2 separate regions of the Homo sapiens genome follow, and region 2 is linked to region 1. The links come from fine-mapping of genetic effects on gene expression. A gene starts in region 1. The other region holds a variant in brackets. All regions are shown on one strand. Distances are between the middles of the regions.

Evidence for each region. PIP is the estimated chance that this variant, and not a neighbour inherited with it, causes the effect. A credible set is the group of variants that fine-mapping cannot tell apart.
Region 2: its variant is the best candidate, but not a certain one, in a credible set for the expression of SYNPO2 in monocytes after LPS (Quach 2016, PIP 0.54).

The regions. Positions count from the first base shown.
Region 1 is chr4:118,885,829-118,891,057 of GRCh38, forward strand. It overlaps SYNPO2 (synaptopodin 2), which reads left to right and starts at 3,026. Exons shown (of 5, transcript NM_133477.3): 1 at 3,026-3,313. The coding sequence starts at 3,209.
Region 2 is chr4:119,000,223-119,005,451 of GRCh38, forward strand. All of the region lies in intron 1 of SYNPO2 (synaptopodin 2), which reads left to right. Among named protein-coding and RNA genes, the nearest start is that of SYNPO2-AS1, 18 kb to the left of the region's middle. The variant C/A (reference allele first, on the strand shown) is at 3,143.

The DNA.
Region 1 (5,229 bases):
GGGAATACATAAGACCTGGAGGCAGAATAGCAATGATTAAGAATAGGTATTAGGGCAGACAAATTCGGGCAGACAAAAGTTCAAACCCTGGCTCTATCGCTTAGGATTTAAAGCACTGTTAATTATCAGTAAAAGAGAAACACTAATACCTATCTAGCATGGTTGCTTTGAAAATAAATACAACATTATATTTCAAGTTCCTGCACAGAATAAATCTTTGATAAGAGTGGCTACAGAGGCAAGAAGAAAGCCTAGAGCTTGCTGGGCCCAAGAAGCCTAAGGGAGAAATGATTTAAGGAGGACACCATCACTAATTTGAAGCTAGACTTGAGTGGATTGAGGAGCAGAAGGGACATGAAAAAGTAAAAAGAACAAATATGAAAGTGTTTTTTTTCTTTGTTCTCAGAGCTCATTTTTTAAAAATTTTTACTTTAAGTTCTGGGATACATGTGCAGAACATGCAGGTTTGTTACATAGGTATACATGTGCCATGGTTGTTTGCTGCACCTATCAACCCGTCATCTAGGTTTTAAGCCCCGCATGCGTTATGTGTCGTAATGCTCTCCCTCCCTTTGTACCCCACCCTCCGACAGGCCTCAGTGTGTGATGTTTCCCTCCCTGTGTCTATGTGTTCTCATTGTTCAACTCCCACTTATGAGTGAGAACATGTGGTGTTTGGTTTACTGTTCCTGTGCTAGTTTGCTGAGAATGATGGCTTCCAGCTTCATCCATGTCCCCTGCAAAGGACATTAACACATTCTTTTTTTATGGCTGCATAGTATTCCATGGTGTATATGTGCCATATTTTCTTTATCCAGTCTATCACTGATGGACATTTGGGTTGGTTCCAAGTCTTTGCTATTGTAATTAGTGTCAAAGCTCATATTTTATGATGTCTCTTGTAACTATTGTTTAAAGGAAAGACTGGGAAAGTCAATTCGTGTTTCTGAAAAGAATCAAACTTGGGATGAGTATCTGGCCCTCATGACCTTCAAAGGGTCTCTTCCAGTGCCACAATCTCTGATTTCATTGTCCTCACTCCAGTGATGAGTCACAAATAAAATCACTTGATGCCTTTGGCTTCTGGGGAGCATGGGCTGTGTAAAATGTTCATTGTACCACAGGTCCTTGAATAATGCCATTTTATTCAACATTGTTTCATGACAACATTGATGAGAAAAAAAAATGTATTTCCAGCTGGGGCCACTGTTTGTATGGAGTTTGAAAGTTCTCCCCATGTCTGTATAGGTTTTCTCCAGGTCCTCTGGTTTCCTGCCACATCCCAAAGCTGTGCTCATGAGATGAACTGGCATGTCTAAATGGTCCCCATCTGAGTGAGTGTGTGTGTGTGTGTGTGTGTGTGTGTGTGTGTGTGCACCCTCTGATGGGATGGTCAGGGCTGTCCAGGGCTGATTCCTGCCTTGCGCCCTAAGCTGCAGGGAGAGGCTCAAGCCACTGGAGATCCTGAATGGGAATAAGTGGGTTGGAGGAGGAATGAATGTATGGATGCAAATTATTTTCAAAAAAAATTCATAAAATATATGTTAATCACACAAATGCACAGCAATAGATGATGCTGTATGAAATTTCTCAGTGAGCCTGCTATATTTGTGGTGGTTTTGAACTGCATTGTGACAGGAGGTACTCCTTATAATTTTCCTTTTGCAAACATTTATTCCTTGATTGAATCCACCACCACTACAGCTGCCCTCACTCACTGATTCACCAAAAATTGGGTCCATGATTATCTTGTTTTTATTAATCTTTCTTAAATGCATGTGTAGCTGACATTTATTTCCATGTTTAATATTAGAAGTGTTTTAATCTTATTTAAAAGTTTGGTGATGTCTTTGTGACCAGAAATAGACTGTAGTCACTTAACCTTGTTTTTATCAATTAGTCGATGGTAAAATTGGTTTTAAAGTCACAGTTTCCATGAACCTATCTGTGACGTTTTAAGTGAGGACTTACTGTATATAGTGCTTCTTAGTGCTGAAACAGGCAGCGTGTCTGGAAATTTTGTTTGGTACCACAAGTAACACAAACAAACTTTCCCAGGCTCTTCCTTATTTAGTATGTTTTTATGTGGATGAATGTTATGGAAAACAAAAGTATTATAGGAAAATTAAAATGTCCTTTTTGTACATTTTTGGCAGATTGTATTCAGATTTAAAACATTTAAATATTTGGAATATACAAAATCTGCTTTTATATTGGACCACCCAGATTCATGACATGGGATGACAAACTATAAAAATAAGAAACCTGTAGGTGACATTGTACATTTTATGCAGTTGACTAACTGTTGGGTTTGGGTTTAAGAAGATCAGCAGGTAGAAAGAAAACAAAACACGTTAAAATTTAACATACCCAAAACTATGCAATAGATGTAATTATAAGAATGTAGTTTCCAGGAGAAAAATTCATATTCATTTTCTCTCTTTCTCTCTCCCTTTCTGTCTCTTCTCTTCCCCTTTCTCTAAATATATGGTTCAGAAAGGTACTTTTCAGAGCTGGAGGTTTATTAACAAAAAGTTTGTGCTTTCTTTTGTTTCCTCTTATAGGAATAATTCAGCAGAATGCAGACAGAAAAGTAGTAATTTAACTCATTTTAACTCTTTTTTGTCTATTCCATTCATAAATGTGGCAAGTCTCAAAACATTTATTTGAGAGAATCTAATCCTCTAGTAGTTGAATTCCCAACGCTCCTATTTTAGGACGTCATTCATGGCGTGGAGATTAAACCTTCATGTGTCCTTTACTATTTACAGAATTATTAAATGTAAGTTTTTCAATCATACTTATACCATTAACTGCTTGGATTTAATCTGTTAGTGCAAGATAACTTTGGCTCTCCCTTCCGTCCTCCTTTCCCTTATCTCGCCCCACGTGAGGACATTCTCCTGTGTGTGAAGCTGCTTTCCTTTCCTCGAAGGTGGGCCGAGCAAAGGAGAGTGACGCAAGAGTGGGCTGTGTCCTGGATGCTGCGAGCGCCTCTGCCTCCTTGAGAATGAGCCCATTAGCCGCACAAATTCGCAGCAGGCGGCTGGGGCGGCGGCTGGGGCAGCGGCTGCAGCAGCGGCGGACGCTCTGCATTACCCAGTCTTGCGTCCTCGGCAGGCGCCCGAAGCTGAGTGCGCATCCTCTACCGCACCCAAGCTTCGTCTGTCTCGTCAAGCTCTTCATGCTGCCCAACTAAAAGGAAAACATGGGCACAGGGGATTTTATCTGCATTTCCATGACTGGAGGGGCGCCCTGGGGGTTCAGATTGCAAGGTGGCAAGGAGCAGAAGCAGCCCTTACAAGTTGCAAAGGTAGGACCTGAACGAAGTGTCACGGCTCTGTGCTAGGAAGGAAGGAATGAAAGCAACCTGCTGATGGTGTTTTCAGGTTCTGATGCAGAAGTCTAAGTATTATTTGATTTTGCTGCGGATATTAAGATTTTTCTAGGAAGTGAGTTATTTTCTAAGAAACTTTGGAGAGTAATGGGCCACATCCTATGTAATTAACTTGCAATCGATGAGGGGTGGGTGGGAAGAATGCCATATTTATCAGCTGAGGAAAAGGCCTAGTTAACCATGTTCTTCTGACAACAAGCAAGACACTGGGGAGCGTTTCTTCCAGGCAATTTTAGAATGTTCAGTTGAGTTATTGTTTGATGTCACTTCACTTGGCTCTGGCAGAGGAGAAACGCTCAGTTCAGCATAACGACTTTGCTTGGCTATTTTGGGGACTCATATAGAGTGTTGGTAGTGACATTTATTATGCAGCATTCATGAAAAGGCCAATGTTGGGCAATAATTTTAAAAGTATGATGAAGTGTCATAAAATCTATTTAAAAGAATACCCTTTTAAGGATTTGACAAATAAATGCAAAAATCCAATAAATGCTGTATTCCTTCTTATGTACTCTTTTGGTCAAGATCTCAAAAATAAACTTAGAAGATAATCTAAATATATTATGAGTAACTAAGAGGTAACTTTGTAACACATTAATAACTATTTAAAATGCTTTAAGTTTTTATTGCCATTAGATTGCCTGCATTACTGGTTAGCCCAAGGGGATCTGGTATTCTCTAATTGGCATTCAGCTAAAATAAAACTTAAAATGCACAAAACTAAGCAAACTTTTACCTAACCTTATCATCAAATTGCAAATTATAGTATTGTATTGAAGAACATGCAAGAGCATGGGATTAATTTCCTATTTTATGCTTATATTAAAAATGGGTACAGATCTTTATGAAATACATGGGCCATTGCCTTTGTAGTTATTGTTTGTTTCCCTCTGGCTTTTACTCTTTTTTTTTTGTAGTTATTGTTTCCCTCTGCCTTTTACGTTTTTTTTTTTTTAGTGTCCTTTGCGAAGAAAGAAGTTTCTTTGAAACTCCTTTTTGCTTCCAGGCATCATATGTAAATCCTTTCGTAATGTGATGGTGGAATCCTGCCACCTAGTGAAAATTGCAAACATCAAGAATGAACCATAAAACAGTAGATGAAAAGCAGAGTTTTTATTACTGGAAAGTTCCTCCGAGGTCTGCAGTTCAACCCATGAATTTTAGATGAGGAAAGAGCCCAGAGATGTTAAGTAACTTGCCTTAAGTTTTCAGCTTGGAACTGGCAGAGTGATTAAAGGCTCAGAAAGGTGGTTTTGTTGGGTTCCTTTAGGAGTCAATAGCAGGCAACCTCAGATAAAATATGAATGCCCAATTTAGCATATGTAGAATTCATGACACTGAAGCAGATTTGTCCTGAGTCTAGAATAGCAGTTGGCTGGCTCTAGGTATGAGATTTGGGTTCTAATTCCAGCTCTGATCTAACTTGCAGCCTGGCCTTAGGAAAATCTCTCACCCTTCCTGTCTCATCGGTTTCTCTCTCTCTCTCTCTCTCTCTCTCTCTCTCTCTCTGTGTGTGTGTGTGTGTGTGTGTAGGGAGAGAGAGACAAATATTTTAACTTAGGTGGTAAAGAAGTAAGAAAGAAATTGGACTGTGCAGTCTACGAAGCTCTGTCTTGCCCAAGTATTCTACGATCCTGATAGTGTACAGTTTTAGAATCGCTTGCCTACTAATTGAAATATGGGGACAGAGTGGCTGAGTGCTGTTGTTCTCTGGTGGCTCTTTGGCAGCCAGGCCTCAAGAATAGAGTGGGTAGTGGGTTTCTTCTGAGTTCTGCATGTGACGATTTCAATGTGGGACCTCTTTGCGGCGATTCACTGAAGAGCTGAAGCAG
Region 2 (5,229 bases), 110 kb after region 1:
GACACTGACACAGGTAGGGGATGTGAGATGTGAGGCATTGTTTCCTTGTGAAGGAAAAAGACCACTTGTAACCCACTGAGATAACCTGTCCTTCATTTTCCTGGGTCTGAGAGGATCATTCTCCTTTCACTCTTTCTTTGCTTTTAATGTGAAAGACCTTGCTAATAATAAATGAGAGCCCGCCTCCCTTTGATATGTCCAAGCTGAGGAAGACTTCCTGATGACTGTCATGTAAAACAGCAGAAGACACCCACAGACACACAGAGAGAAACAGACACACACGAGTAATACAACCCCAGGGATCACCACCCAGGATTAATAAAATAGCATGAGCTATAGTTGCTCACATTACACAGGCTTCCTTCTCGGCAATGTGGCATGGTGCTGAAATGTTGTTTAAAAATTTGTGCTGCCACCTTCATACCATGGCCATATTTTGAAGCCCATGACCTCATCGCTATCTGAGTTGCCAGGGCTGGATTCCAGGAGAAAGGGGAAGGGAGGTGGACAGGAGAGAGAAGAAGCAAAGATTAACAAGTTGAAATAACAAAAACTTTTAATTCCACTTCTTAGAATTCAATTATGTCATTTGCAGAGAGGGTCCATGTCTTCCTGCTGTTCTTTCTTTCTTTCTTTTCTTTTTTTCTCTCTCGCAACATCTGCTGAGACATAAGTCTAGAAAATCTGTAACCACCTGAAACCATTCACTGGGGCACAAATCTATTAGGCCTAGAGTTTCATATGAGTGCAGTGAAGTGAAGTTATATTTGAGCTCTCCATCATAGAATTTCTATTCCACATGGCTGTTCTTTCTACCCTCACACTTTCCCCTCAAGAGGTAAAAAGTCTCTCCATTTTCATACCCACTGTTCGTTTTCTCCTTGGCTTTGTGCCCCATGGGGGGTGCCATTAACATGTGTCTAATGTGGCCATGCCCCCTTGAACCTGTGCAGTGTCCTAGCCCTATGGCCCTTCCATACATAGTTAAAAGAAGAATGGATCAATTGACAGAAAAAAAATGGAAGAGAGAAAGAAAAATTGCTTCTCCACCTCAAAATCTTAAATCAAACATAGCCTTGTACACGAGACACAGATACATTTATATATATTTATATTTAGATACTGACTTCTAGACTAAGGACAGATACTGAAATAAAAACAGCACTTTAATATTGTCCTTAAGTAGATACTCATTGTTAACTGAAGAAATAGGTAAGTAGCTATTTAACCCTTCATGTCCATAGCACATAGATTATTTAATATTCTACAGCAGAACTTTTAGAAAGTCAAGGCAACTTTTATTTGTCCAGAGTTTAAGTTTAAATTCACAGGTCACTCAAATCCAGTATACCGGGAAGCCAAAATATCAAAAATGCAAGGATTTATTGAAAAGCCATGACGCTTTTTAAAATTTAGTTCTTATTCTTTATCAAAGTTACATATACCTAGTTTAAAGAGTCAAATAGTTCTAGAATACGTTTTATGAAAAACCATCAATTTTAGATTTCCCAAAAGCAAAACATATTCTTTTTACCTTTGTCTAGTTTTCTTCTTATTTCTAAAATATACATCTGTGTTTACCTTTGTCTAGTTTTCTTCTTATTTCTAAAATATACATCTGTGTTTACCTTTGTCTAGTTTTCTTATTTCTAAAATATACATCTGTGTGATTTCTTGATTTTTCTCAGTTGTAAAAATTATTCATTGTTATGTCACAACGGAAGATGAAGATAAATAGTTCTGTTACCCTTCTCCAGTCCCTACTTCAAGCTCATATGATTACCTAGTGCCCCCCATCCTCCCAATATAATTATATTTTGATTGAATCACTATTCAGTGCTTAGATTATTAAGCTTAGCCAGGTAGTATGTTAGGAATACTTTTTCCTTTCCTGCATAAATTATTTTCTCCTGATAATTGACAACTGTCTTTCTTTTTAAGATTTTAGTTTTCTAAGTATTTGTCATTAGTTCATCCCCAAACTCACTCCATCTAACTGTCCTCCTGGTATTTTAAAATATATCAGGAGTGCTATCAATGTCATTTTTTTTCTTCTGAGATGGAGTCTTGCTCTGTCACCCAGGCTGGAGTGCAACGGCGTGATCTCAGCTCACTGCAACCTCTGCCTCCCCAGTTCAAGCAATTCTCCTGCCTCAGCCTCCCAAGTAGTTGGGACTACAGGTGCTTACCACCACGCCTGGCTAATTTTTGTATTGTTAGTAGAGATGGGGTTTCACCATGTTGGCCAGGCTGGTCTCGATCTCCTGACCTTGTGATCCACCGGCCTCGGCCTCCCAAAGTGCTGTGAGCCACTGTGCTGGGCCAATGTCATTGGTTTTGTAGCCATCTTTCCTGGAGTCTTCTACCCTCCTCTAATTTAAGTTGGTGACTCTCTGCCAGGTGCACAGCTATCTTCCTGGAGTCTCTTCTTAATCATCCTGGGGATTTCTCTTTTCTCTCTCAAGTTGGATTCCCTATTTCTTTGGTTTTTCTTCCTCTTTTTTGTGGTTCCCTTCCTCCATTTGCTTCCTAAGAACAAGTGATGAGAGCTGAATTTTTTAAGACTGGGTATATTTGATACCATCTTTATTCTACCCTCCCACCTAATTGATAATTTATCTGGGTATAGCATTCTAGGCTATTGATTTGAGTATATTTTCCTCTATTGTATAGGCCCTTTATATCCAGCAATGCTTGCCTTCAATTATAAGAAATTTTCTTGAATTATTTGATGACTTATTCGTTTTGTTTTCTGTTTTCTCATTCTGGAATTTCTGTTATTTAGCTGTTGAACCATTTGTATGCATCCTCTCTAATTTTCTTAGCTTTTTCCTTTTATTTTTATCTTTTTGTCTTGCTGTATTAGTCCACTGCTGTATTAGTCACACTGCTATAAAGAAATACCCAAGACTGGGTAATTTATGAAGGAAAGAGATTTAAAGGACTCACAGTTCCTTATGGCTGGGGAGGCCTCAGGAAACTTACAATCATGATGGAAGGCAAAGGGGAAGCAAGCACTTACTTCACAGGGTGGCAGGAGAGAGAAGTGCTGTGAAGGAGGAACTGCCAAACACATAAAACCATCAGATCTCATGAGAACTCACTATCATGAGAACAGCATGGGGGAAACCACCCCCATGAT[C/A]CAATCACCTCCCTCCCTTGACACGTGGGGATTACAATTTGAGATGAGATTTGGGTGGGAACACAGAGCCAAACCATATCACTGCTATTCAAACTTGTTAGGTTTCAGGAGACTCTAGAAAATTTTCTCAACATTGTCTTCCAAATTCTCTACTCAGCTATTCATTTCTGCTAAGAGAGTTTTAATTGCCAAAAGTCCTTCTCATTCTCTTTTGTATCATCCTGTTTCTGTTTCATGGTTTGATATCATTCTGGAGACATTAGTAATAACATTTTTTGACATTTTCCCCTCCCAGTATAGTCTCTATGTTTGCATTCTGCCTTTTTAGTATCTTTTATAGTAGAGGCTTTCCTTTAGATTAGAACTGATGTCCTTGGCTCTCTGCTTACTCTAGGGGAGTCAGGCTGGGCTGTTTCTTGGCAAAGTCCTAATATCACTATTTTAATTGACTGGCTAATCAGAATCTTCCATTCTCCTCCTAGAAAGGTATAAATTCCAGCTGCCAGAGTTCCGGGAGCCCAGATACGACATGGCTTTAAGTGGGAATTTCAGGATCCGGTAGTTAATCGTTCATTTCACCCCTTATTTTCCACCCTCAGCTGTGCCTGGTGTCCTGTAGGGTAAATAAACGATATTTACATGGCTGTGGGAAACAGGAAATGGCATTGAGAGGGTCTACTGTGTTTTTAGACTTTCAACAACATTCCTGTTTTCGGCCCTACATTCACCTTTACTGTTCCACAAATTCCTAACTCTTCAAGGAATTCTGCAGAGCAAATTGTATTGTTTGTTTGGCTTTCTCTAACTTAGGGTTCACTATTCCCAAGTCTGTCCATTTGTGGAAATTGTTCAAAATTACCTTTTTTTAAAAAAAAGTATACTTTAAGTTTTAGGGTACATGTGCACAATGTGCAGGTTTGTTACATATGTATACATGTGCCATGTTGGTGTGCTGCACCCATTAACTCGTCATTTAGCATTAGGTATATCTCCTAATGCTATCCCTACCCCCTACCCCCACCCCACAACAGTCCCCGGTGTGTGATGTTCCCCTTCCTGTGTCCATGTGTTCTCATTGTTCAATTCCCACCTATGAGTGAGAACATGCGGTGTTTGGTTTTTTGTCCTTGTGATATTTTGCTGAGAATGGTGGTTTCCAGCTTCATCCATGTCCCTACAAACGACATAAACTCATCATTTTTTATGGCTGCATAGTATTCCATGGGGTATATGTGCCACATTTTCTTAATCCAGTCTATCATTGTTGGACATTTGGGTTGGTTCCAAGTCTTTGCTATTGTGAATAGTGCCGCAATAAACATACATGTGCATGTGTCTTTATAGCAGCATGATTTATAATCCTTTGGGTATATACCCAGTAATGGGATGGCTGGGTCAGATGGTATTTCTAGTTCTAGATCCCTGAGGAATCGCCACACTGACTTCCACAATGATTGAACTAGTTTACAGTCCCACCAACAGTGTAAAAGTGTTCCTATTTCTCCACATCCTCTCCAGCACCTGTTGTTTCCTGACTTTTTAATGATCACCATTCTAACTGGTGTGAGATGGTATCTCATTGTGGTTTTGATTTGCATTTCTCTGATGGCCAGTGATGATGAGCATTTTTTCATGTGTTTTTTGGCTGCATAAATGTCTTCTTTTGAGAAATGTCTGTTCATATCCTTCGCCCACTTGTTGATGGGGTTGTTTGTTTTTTTCTTGTAAATTTGTTTGAGTTCATTGTAGATTCTGGATATTAGCCCTTTGTCAGATGAGTAGATTGCGAAAATTTTCTCCCATTGTGTAGGTTGCCTCTTCACTCTGTTGGTAGTTTCTTTTGCTGTGCAGAAGCTCTTTAGTTTAATTAGATCCCATTTGTCAATTTTGGCTTTTGTTGCCATTGCTTTTGGCGTTTTAGACATGAAGTCCTTTCCCATGCCTATGTCCTGAATGGTATTGCCTAGGTTTTCTTCTAGGGTTTTTATGGTTTTAGGTCTAACATTATAGTCTTTAATCCATCTTGAATTAATTTTTGTTTAAGGTGTAAGGAAGGGATCCAGTTTCAGCTTTCTACATATGGCTAG